2 separate regions of the Homo sapiens genome follow, and region 1 is linked to region 2. Evidence: fine-mapped expression QTL. A gene starts in region 2. The other region holds a variant in brackets. All regions are shown on one strand. Distances are from middle to middle.

Evidence for each region. PIP is the estimated chance that this variant, and not a neighbour inherited with it, causes the effect.
Region 1: its variant is the best candidate, but not a certain one, in a credible set for the expression of ANKRD52 in whole blood (TOPMed, PIP 0.61).

The regions. Positions count from the first base shown.
Region 1 is chr12:56,230,683-56,236,048 of GRCh38, reverse strand. It overlaps SLC39A5 (solute carrier family 39 member 5), which reads right to left. Exons shown (of 13, transcript NM_173596.3): 3 at 5,176-5,218; 4 at 4,488-4,845; 5 at 3,177-3,360; 6 at 1,063-1,225; 7 at 723-892; 8 at 349-489. The coding sequence starts at 4,774. Among named protein-coding and RNA genes, the nearest start is that of SLC39A5, 3.3 kb to the right of the region's middle. The variant T/C (reference allele first, on the strand shown) is at 2,214.
Region 2 is chr12:56,255,544-56,260,909 of GRCh38, reverse strand. ANKRD52 (ankyrin repeat domain 52) reads left to right here and starts at 2,526. Exons shown (of 28, transcript NM_173595.4): 1 at 2,526-2,667; 2 at 2,999-3,082; 3 at 3,549-3,627; 4 at 3,825-3,895; 5 at 4,926-5,126. The coding sequence starts at 2,641. RefSeq lists silencers at 2,268-2,327, 2,338-2,887, 2,908-2,977 and enhancers at 3,038-3,087, 3,168-3,217, 3,524-4,516.

The DNA of each region.
Region 1 (5,366 bases), 25 kb after region 2:
TGTTTTTGAGATGGAGTCTCGCTCTGTCACCTGGGCTGGAGTGCAGTGGTGCCATCTTAGCTCGCTGCAACCTCCACCTCCCAAGTCAAGCGATTCTCCTGCCTCAGCCTCCTGAGTAGCTGGGATTACAGACACGCACCACCACGCCCAGCTAATTTTTGTATTTTTAGTAGAGACAGGGTTTCACCATGTTGGTCAGGCTGGACTCGAACTCCTAACCTTGTGATCTGCCCGCCTTGGGCTCCCAAAGTGCTGGGATTACAGGCGTGAGCCACCGCGCCCGGCCTGGCCCAGTTCTTGACTGGGACTCTGGTCTCAGCAGAAGGAGGAGAAAAGGGTATCACTCACTGGCCTGAGCCCTCGGTGCCGCAAAAGCCCCAGCATGTTCTCCAGCACAAAGAGCAGGAAGAGGCCTCCGAGCACTGACAGCCCCGGGCCCAGGTCCTTCTCTGGTAGTCCGCCAGGTCCTGCGTGCCGCCCTTCTTGTGCCTGACAGAGAGAAGGTCAGGGCAGACTCTGGAAGCCCCTATACCCAACAACATCCCCTTGCATGGATTGTGGCAAGCCTTCGCTCATATGCTCTACTAGAAGGCAGCTGTGGGCTGAAGCCAGGATCTGGGAGTAGGATATGGGAGCTGATGGAAAGGCGGAGGGGATGTCCTATGGCTGGGGACACCTTAGATCCATGGAGGCCAGGGGTACAAGGAAGGGGCTTCACATACATGCGGTAGCAGATGTAGCAGTGCATCCCCACAAAGAGTGCCCACCGCCAGGGCCCCCAGGAAGCCCAGCAAGGGCCGTAGTAGACGAGGTCCCAGGAGCCGCAGCAGCAGCAGGGATAGGGGAGAAGGGAGGCTGAGCAACAGGACTGCCAGGGCACTCTGAAGCAGGGCTGGGGAGAATCAGGGGCTGAAGTTAGGTCAGGGCAAGAGGAGGGTCCCACACGTAAGGTGGAGCAGAGAGAACACTACAAGGAGAGGCAGGACCCCAGTGAGCCTCCTTTTTGGCATGGGCCCCACTTCCAGGATTCAGGGTGTCCCCCACCCACTCCTACTTGCTGACCAGATAGTAGATCCCCTGGGGGTGCAGGGGCCGGAGCGCCGATGCAGACGCGGCTGTCGATCTGATAAAGCAGGGCTGGGCACAGCAGAGCAAACTGACGAGGGGTCAGAGGAGCAGCGGGGCTCAAGCCAAAATTGACCAGCAGCTGGGAGCCGTTCAGACACTGGAGAATTGAGGGTCATACATTGGAGAATCACCAGGAACTATGACTCAGATCTTTAACACCTGGCCAGGTGTAGTGGCTCACACCTATAATCCCAGCCCTTGAGAGGCCCAGGCGGGTGTATCATCTGAGGTCAGGAGTTTGAGACCAACCTGGCCAACATAGTGAAACCCTGTCTCTACTAAAAATACAAAAATTAGCTGGGGATGAGCCGGGTGCGGTGGCTCACGCCTGTAATCCCAGCACTTTGGGAGGCTGAGGTGGGTAGATTGCCTGAGCTCAGGAGTTCGAGACCAGCCTGGGCAACATGGTGAAACCCTGTCTCTACTAAAATACAAAAAATTAGCTGGGCATGGTGGCGTGCACCTGTGATCCCAGCTACTCAGGAGGCTGAGACAGGAGAATCGCTTGAACCCAGGAGGCAGAGGTTGCAGTGAGCCGAGATTGCACCAGTGCACTCCAGCCTGGGCGACAGAGTGAGACTCCATCTCAAAAAAAAAAAAAAAAAATTAGCTGGGGATAGTAGTGAACACCTATAATCCCAGCTACTCGGGAGGCTGAGGCAGGAGAATTGCTTTAACCCAGGAGGTGGAGGTTGCAGTGAGCCAAGATCACGCCATTGCACTCCAGCCTGGGTGACAGAGTCAGACTCTACCTCAAAAAAATATATATATATATATTTAACACCTGTCCTTCCATTGCATAGACTCCTGGGTCTCTCCCAGGGTCCCCTTTGCTCCTACTGGCAGGTACCTTGGGGACTAGGGCCAAGGGTACTTATAATCAATGTGTATTATTAGTGAATATTCAGTCCAATGCAGGTATTCAATTTGATGCAAACTGGGTGCTAGTGAGCATTGTCATCATCTTCCCTGCAAACTCTGATCATTTCAATCATTTTGTTGATTTGATAAATGAAGCTGGTTGGAAAACTAGAGCTCTCCATGCCAGAATCTTAAAAGGGAAAAGACCCTGAAATGCCATCTAA[T/C]CTCCCTCTCAACAGCCCTGTCGATGTTCATCCAGCCTCAGCTTGAATGCTTCCTGCAATGGGCACTCACTGGACCTCCATCAGGGTTAGGCAGCTTTGTCTGCCCTCTGGTGTAAGTGGAATATATTCTCTGTCTTTCTGGATGAAGACAGCCATCCATTCCCTGCAGGTCTCCTCTCCAGGTGACCATCCAGATCCTACCCTGGGCTGCTTCTCTAGATTCTCTGCTTTGCCATCTATTCCCCTAAACTGAGTCTTGGAGCTCTGGATATGGGCTCACCTGCTCTGATCCCAGAGGGAACATAGTTCACTATTGAAATAACATCCCCTAAGACCACAGTGAGATATTTTTTTTTTATTTTTTTATTTTTTTTATTTTCATTTTTGAGACAGAGTCTCGCTGTGTTACCCAGGCTGGAGTGCAGTGGTGCAATCTCGGCTGACTGCAATCTCCGCCTCCTGGGTTCAAGTGATTTTCCTGCCTCAGCCTTCCGAGTAACTGGGATTATAGGCATGTGCCACCACGCCCAGCTATTTTTTTTTTTTTTTTTTTTTTTTTTTTTTTTTTTTTGAGACAGAGTCTCCCTCTTGTTGCCCAGGCTGGAGTGCAAATGGTGCCATCTTGGCTCACTGCAACCTCTGCCTCCCAAGTTCAAGCAATTTTCTCACCTCAGCCTCCTGAGTAGCTAGGATTACACACACCTGTTACCACACCCGGCTAATTTTTGTATTTTTTAGTAGAGATGGGGTTTCACCATGTTGGCCAGGCTGGTCTCGAACTCCTGACCTCAGGTGATCCACCCACCTCGGCCTCCCAAAGTGTTGGGATTACAGGCGTGAGCCACCACGCTTGGTCCACGTTGGGATTTAAAAACAAAACAAAACAAAAAACTACTGATTATTTAAACATTTCAGGCCATCTAATCCCATGGCTCCTTCCCCTCTAGAGACCGTCAGACTCACATCCTCATTCAGGTGGTCAGCCAATGAGTGGTCCAGCAACAGAAGCCTGTGAAGGAGGTCCAGGCCCGAGGGGGCTGGCCCACGGGGTAGGTGAGGGGCCTTTGACTCTTCCAGGTCACCCCACCCTGAGGGACCCAGAGGCATCCCTGCCCAGACATCCACACTCAGCTCAGGGTTCTGTGGCCTGGAATGGATGAGACAGCAAGTCAGCCTCCCTTGTGTTCTCTATCAACCCGCTTTGAGAGGCTCCCAGGGATTTTAGGGGGAATGGGGGGACTAGCCACTGACTGGAGATCCTGGGACCCAGAAACCATGGAATGTCATTCTTAGGAAGATCTGTGAGTTGTCCATTTTCTGCCACTGGGGGGGACAGAAAAAAAAGGACGACAACCAAAAGGGCTACGAATGGCTGGGCACGGTGGCTCACGCCTGTAATCCCAGCACTTTGGGAGGCTGAGGTGGGTGGATCACCTGAGGTTGGAAGTTCGAGACCAGCCTGACCAAAATGGTGAAACCCCGTCTCTACTAAAATTGCAAAAATTAGCCCGGCGTGGTGGTGTGTGCCTGTAATCCCAGCTACTCAGGAGGCCGAGGCAGGAGAATCGCTTGAACCGGGGAGGCAGAGGTTACAGTGAGCCAAGATCACACCACTGCACTCCAGCCTGGGCGACAGAGCGAGACTCTGTCTCAAAAAAAAAAAAAAAAAAAAAAGAAAAGAAAAGAAAAAAGAAGTCTACGAATTTGGAGCCAAATCAGCCCAGAGACACTGAACAGTGATACTAAGAGCAAGAAATTTAAGGGCTTAGAGATTTGGAGGAGGAGAGAATTAGAAGGCAACGGAGGGCTAGGGTGGTAGTTCACATCTGTAGTCCCAGCACTTTGGGAAGCTGAGGCAGGCAGATCGCTGAGCTGAGCCCAGGAGTTTGAGACCAGCCTGGGCAACACAGCGAAACCCTTGTCTCTGTAAAAAATTTTTAAAATTAGCCGGCTGTGGTGGTGTGTGCCTATGGTCCCAGCTGCTCAGGAGGCTGAGGTGGGAGGATGGCTTCAGCCTGGGAAGCAGAGGTTGCAGTGAGCCGTGAATGTGTCACTGCACTTTAGCCTGGGTGACAAAGCGAGACCCCCAGTCTCAAGAAAAGAGAGAGAAGGCAATAGAAGCATGAGAGGTTTTGAAGAGATACCAAGGAGCTCGGTTCTGAAGAATTTGTAACTCCAGGGATCTCGTGAGGAAGCCAGAACGAGGCAACTGGGGGCAAGCACTGAGAGGACCTGGGAGATGTGGCCCTGTGGAGTGGAGGAAGGGGTCAGTACCTGTGTGTGGAATTGTCTGCAGCTGGGGATGCAGCCCGTCCAGTCAGAGGCCCATGCTGTCCCAGGCGAAGCCCCTGAACTCGGCCTAGCCCCAGGCTGTGGAGAAGCCGCGCCAAGCCCCCTGCAGTCAGCGTCCCATTCTCGCCGTACAGGCCAAACAGCTGGGCCAGGTAATGGTTCTGCTCCTGCTCAGCAGGGCCCAGGTTGGGGACTGAGCCCCCTACCCAGCCCAAGACGACCCACACACAGAAGCCGGCCAGCAGATGACTCACTGGGGACCCCATCATTGGTGAGGGGAATAGCTTAGGGGCTCAGGTTCTGGCTCCTATTCTCCCCGAAACATCCTGAGGACTGTGCCCTGGAAGAATGAGGAATGGGCTGGAGCTGCGCTCTGCTCTCCAGCTCAGGTCCATGGGGGAGCCAGAGCTCCTTGCACCTGCTCCCCACCGAGTCCAGCAGCAGCCCCTACTGCAGCCTTCTTTCTCCCTTCACACTGCCTCCTGCGGGAGCAGCCTCTTGTTTGCTGGTTCCTGGAGCACCTCCCTGAGTCAGAGCTCTCCTCATACTTCATCCAGAGCTGACCGTCCATTCCTTGTCCCCTAAACCCCACCCCTCAACTTTGCCCCACCTCTTTATCCCCCCTCAATCCCCAGGGCCTCACCCCTACTGGCAACATAAGAGCTGTCACCTCAGGTCCCCTATTAGGCCTTGCTGTAGACGTTAAGCAGTTCCTGAGTCAGGGAAGGGGGAATCCAGGCTTAGCCTCCAGGTGTCCAGGTGGATCGGAGGCCACGTCACATAGAAGGCTGAGATGGACATGCACCCCCTCCTAGCCCACCTGCCTTGGGGCGGGGTCAGGGGTGGGGCCAGTGTGTGAAG
Region 2 (5,366 bases):
AATGCCTGTTTCTCTATACTGATATTCTGGAGCTTAAAAAAAACTATACCTGGCTGGGCACGGTGGCTCACGCCTGTAATCCCAGCACTTTGGGAGGCCGAGGCGGGCGGATCACGAGGTCAGGAGATTGAAACCTCCTGGCTAACATGGTGAAACCCCATCTCTACTCAAAGTTAGCCGGGCATGGTGGCAGCACCTGTAGTCCCAGCTACTGGGGAGGCTGAGGCAGGAGAATGGCATGAACCCCAGAGGCGGAGCTTGCAGTGAGCCGAGATCCCGCCACAGCACTCCAGCCTGGGCGGCGACAGAGCGACACTGGTCTCCAAAAAAAAAGGTGAAATGAGAAACAAAGGTGTACAATTTAACCAGATTGTGGCAGTATAAACTAAGTATGTAAGTGTTAAGGAGAACTAACAAAAGGAAAAGAGCCTATTAGCCAGAGGAGACTTCCTGGAAGAGGTAAGTTTAAATTTCTTCATAATTTTTGTGTGTGCATGGAATCACGGAGTGATTGCTCCTAAGCAATATTTTAACTTTTATTTTCAATATGGTAAAAATTTAAAAAATTCCAAAAGGTATATAGTGATAGGTAAATTTCTCTCTCATTCCTTATTTCCTGTACCCCAGTTTTTCTTTCTGGGAAAAAAGGACTGTTACTAGTGTCTTAAGTATCTTTCTAGCAGGAAAGCAAGGGAAGGCTTTTTTTTTTTTTTTTTTTTTTTGACATGGAGTCTGGCTCTGTCACCCAGGCTGGAGAGCAGTGGCTCCATCTCGGCTCACTGCAACCTCCGCCTCCTTGGTTCAAGTGATTCTCCTGCCTCAGCCTCTCCAGTAGCTGGGATTACAGGCGTGCACCACCACACCAGGCTACTTTTTTATATTTTTGGTAGAGATGGGGTTTCACCATGTTGGGAATGGGAAGGCTTTTTTTTTTTTTTTTTTTTTTTTTTTTTGAGACGGAGTCTCGCTCTGTCGCCCAGGCTGGAGTGCAGTGGCGCAATCTCGGCTCACTGCAAGCTCCACCTCCCGGGTTCACGCCATTCTCCTGCCTCAGCCTCCCAAGCAGCTGGGACTACAGGCGCCCGCCACCCTGCCCGGCTGATTTTTGTATTTTAGTAGAGACGGGGTTTCGCTGTGTTAGCCAGGATGGTCTCGATCTCCTGACCTCGTGATCCACCCGCCTCGGACTCCCAAAGTGCTGGGATTACAGGCGTGAGCCACCGCGCCCGGCCGGGAAGGCTTTTTTGAAATGTATTTTCGCCGGGTGCGGTGGCTCACGCCGGTAATCCCAGCTCTTTGGGATGCCGTGGCAGGTGGATCACCTGAGGTCAGGAGTTCGAGACCAGCCTGACCAACATGGTGAAACCCCCGTCTCTACTAAAATAAAAAATTAGCCGGGCAGGGTGGCGGGCGCCTGTAGTCTCAGCTACTTGGTAGTCTGAGACAGGATAATCACTGAACCCGGGAGGCGGAGGTTGCAGTGAGCCGAGATCGTGCCACTGCACTCCAGCCTGGGGGACGAGAGTGAAACTCCATCTCAAAAAATAAAATAAAATGTATTTTTATTTTTTAATTTTTTTCCTCTCCCCTCAAGGGAGGATTTTTATATATAAAGCCTTGACAGGACGCCAGCATGCTGCACTTCGTCCATTTCGTGTTCTCTTCAATGTGTATTGAGTTGTGAAACTCTGAACAGGACCCTGGATCACCTTTTATAAATTGTATCAATTTTTCAATCTCCACTTTTCGTCTTCCTCCTTTTTCCGTTTCTGGGTTGAGATGACCTCCATTCATTTCTTCTCTAATTGACGGCTCTCTGGCCTCTCCATTGGAGGAGGGGAAGCGCCACAGGCTGTTCTGGGGAGAAATTGTTGAGTGTTTTCCACTTTAACCTTGCAATGGAATCAGTAAGGAGTTGGAAAATGCCCCTTCTGTTGGTCTTGGCGGCCTTTTCCAGCTGCCAGTTGTCATGGCCTCTTTGTGGGTGTTTTCTGCAGTAGAATCCTCCTTGGGGTTTCTCTGCAGTTTGAGCACTTTTGCTATTTCTTCTCTACCGAACTCACGCCTCCGCCAGTGGAGATACACGCTTTCCCTCCCTCTGGGGCTATTGCCATACATAATTCCCAGTTCTCCACCCGCCAGTTCCTCCTAGTCTGTGGGGGATTTCGGGGTGTGGAATCGCTGACGGGAGGAGTTAGCTCGGGCGGGAGCATTGTGGGCTGGGTAAGATCTGGCCAGCCGTTCGGTCCTCAGTTTGGGAAGCACCGCGGGACTAAGGCCCAGGTTTCCGCTAGGGTCTTGTGGGGAACCCCTTGGGCCGCCAGACTGGAGCGGAGAGCACAGCGCGGCCAGCTGCGTGAGCCGGGGAGCCGGCGCGCGAGTTCGGGGGTGCAGGGGCTGCTGGGGCCGCCAGGGTGGGGCGGAGGGCGCTGCGGCCGGGGTCCGTTTGCGCGGGGAGCGCCGGGACCAGGACGGCCGCCAGGGAGCGCTGCGGCCTCCAACTCGCCCGCCCCCCGGTAGGCGGGGCCGCGCTCTCCCTGCAGCCGCCACCGCAGCCGCCGCCTGGGCCGCTCCGTGTCCCCGGTGGAGCCGCCGCCGCCGCCGCCGGGAGCTCGATGCGGACGGAGCCCGGGCCGAGCCATGGGGATCCTCAGCATCACGGACCAGGTCAGCCCTCCTGCCCTTTCCCGCTTCCTCCTTCCAGGGCTCGGCGCTGCCGTCACGCGAGCCCGGGGATGTGCGGCCTAGGCTGGGCCTGAGCCCGGGGCTCCCGCAGCTCCCGCCCCGCCCCATGCCGCGCTCCCCTCAACCGAGCCGGTGTCCTTGGGGACCTGGCAACCGGCGGAGGCACCGCGGGAGCTCGCTCCAGCCAGAATCCCTAGAGTGGAGCCCCTCCACGGACGCCCCCCACTCAAACCTAGGTGCTCCCCCACCCCCACCCCCACACCGGTTCCGCTCCGGCTCCAGCCCGCTCTCAGAATGCCGGTTCTCTCTGCAGCCGCCCCTGGTCCAGGCCATCTTTAGCCGAGATGTGGAGGAAGTGCGTTCCCTACTCTCGCAGAAGGAGAACATCAATGTGCTGGTGAGTTGGGAGCAGGGAGGATGGCGAGACCGGAATCCTGGCTCCCGTGTTCTGGACCCCTCCCCACCGGTGGGGCGGCTCCGTGTCTCCTCTGCTCAGATGAGGCCGCAGTTCTTTCCATCCTGGAGTGAAAGCCTACTCTGCATTTGGGGATGGAGAGCAGGTCAGGCTTGAAGCCCAGATCACTTGGGCTGGGAATGCCCAGGAACGTTGTTCTCTTCTCAACCTCCGGAGTCTGCAGCGCCCCCACCCCTCCTGGAAAAAGGAGCCGGCTTCTCAGCCCATTGGCCCTGACTCCACCCTCCCTAGGTGCTTGCCTTTGACTCCCAATACCGGGACTTAGGACGCTGCAGAAACTATGGGAAGAGGTTGTGGGGAAGGGCCTGGAGCTCTGAGACTTGGGCTGGGGTCCTTGATAGCCCCCTTACCCCGCGCCCATACTCCCTGCTCTTTTTTGCCTTCCCAGGACCAAGAGAGGCGAACTCCATTGCATGCTGCTGCCTACGTAGGCGATGTCCCCATCCTCCAGTTGCTACTGATGTCAGGTGAAAGTGGGGAGCTGGAAGGTGTGGCACATAGGGAGCGAAGGGAGGGGAGGAGTCTTTTTTGATATTCAAGGATTGCTCTCCCCGGCTTGGTCCAGGCGAGGCTCCAGCTCCATTCAGATTTCCTGGCCTGATTACTGGCTTCCTTCATACCTCCTCCCCACCTTCCATCAAAATAGGAAATTATATCCCCACAGGTGCTAATGTCAATGCTAAGGACACACTGTGGCTGACCCCTCTTCATCGTGCTGCTGCCTCCCGAAACGAGGTATGCACCCCCACCTTCTATTACCCTTTCAAAAAGGATAAGTTGCTTAAAGGTGGGGGTTAAGGGTTAAGGAGCCTCAGTCCTCAGCCCTACAAGCTGTTCTACCCCAGGTAGTGAGGAGATCAAATCTTGGCCCCTTCCTCCTACCCCTAGAACTGGCCAGTAAGGGGGTTGAGTGCTGCCAGCTGATGTGACTCAGGAAGAGCTTAACACTGGGCTGGCAGACTGCGGGGGCCCTGCTGCCAGGCCTGAGTGACTCATCCCTCCCTGGGGGGCCACCTTGAGTCTGATCCCCCTCTGGGCACTGAGATTTCTTTTCCTTGTGATGGAGGATGGGTATAGTAATCTGTTGCATCCTTGGCCCTCAAGCAGCTTGAAAGTTGACAGCACAGGGGCCAAACATATTTCATCAGTTGGGTCCTTTATCCTATTCCCATCAGCCCTGAAGACAGGGAAAGGGGGACCTCCTCCTCAGTTCATCACTTCCCTGGCTCCAGCCACCAGGGGGAGGGGCCGAGGCCAGTGGGAATGAGGTGGGTGGTGGTTAGGAGGGGCATTTTAGCTCGGGTTTTGCAAACGAACCAGTATCTGTTTGCTTACTGAGATACTGAAAATAATTTTGGTGCCTATGAGAAGGCTAAAGAGGGTGTTCAGGGCAAGATGTAGCAAGAGCATTTAGTTTTCCTAGAAGTAGTAGGGGGTTGGGATGTGTGGATCTCCACATGTGGATTTGTTTGGGAATGGATGTATGTGTGAGTGAAGATTTTCAGGGTCTAAGTTGGCGAGTCAGGTGGCTTGAAGAAGAGCAAAGGGTCCTTGTTTTAATCAGCAAGGTAAGGAAGAGCTTAAGTTCTAAGAAGATCCAGAAGATGGAAAGTAGGTATTCAGAGGCTAGGTATGTTGGAAAAATGAGAAGAGATTCTGTGCTGGGGAAGGGGCTGTAGATGCTATGCTGACCTATTCCTCCTTCCATTTCCTGTTGTTTTACCTCCTGCTCCCACTCTCTCTTTTGTCCCCTGCCCCTCAACAGAAGGTGCTGGGGCTGCTGCTGGCACATTCAGCAGATGTGAATGCCCGGGACAAGCTGTGGCAGACACCACTGCATGTGGCTGCTGCCAACCGGGCCACCAAGTGTGCTGAGGCTCTGGCACCCCTGTTGAGCAGCCTCAACGTGGCTGACAGGAGCGGGCGCAGTGCTCTGCACCATGCAGTGCATAGTGGGCATCTTGAGGTGAGGACTGTTCCCATCCAGGCCCAGCTGGGGCTTTCCCTTTTCTTACCTTCCTACTCACGTTTCCCTGCTTCTGGGCCCTCAAGCCTGAAGGAGAAGCAGCCCGGATGGTTATATAAACACTTAAGCTGAAGCACTAAATGAATGGTCAGACTAGATTAAAATTCTTAACTTGGACTTCAGGAGGTTGATAAAACCTTGGATTTTGCGTGGAAAATATTTGCATACACGCCTTTCTGA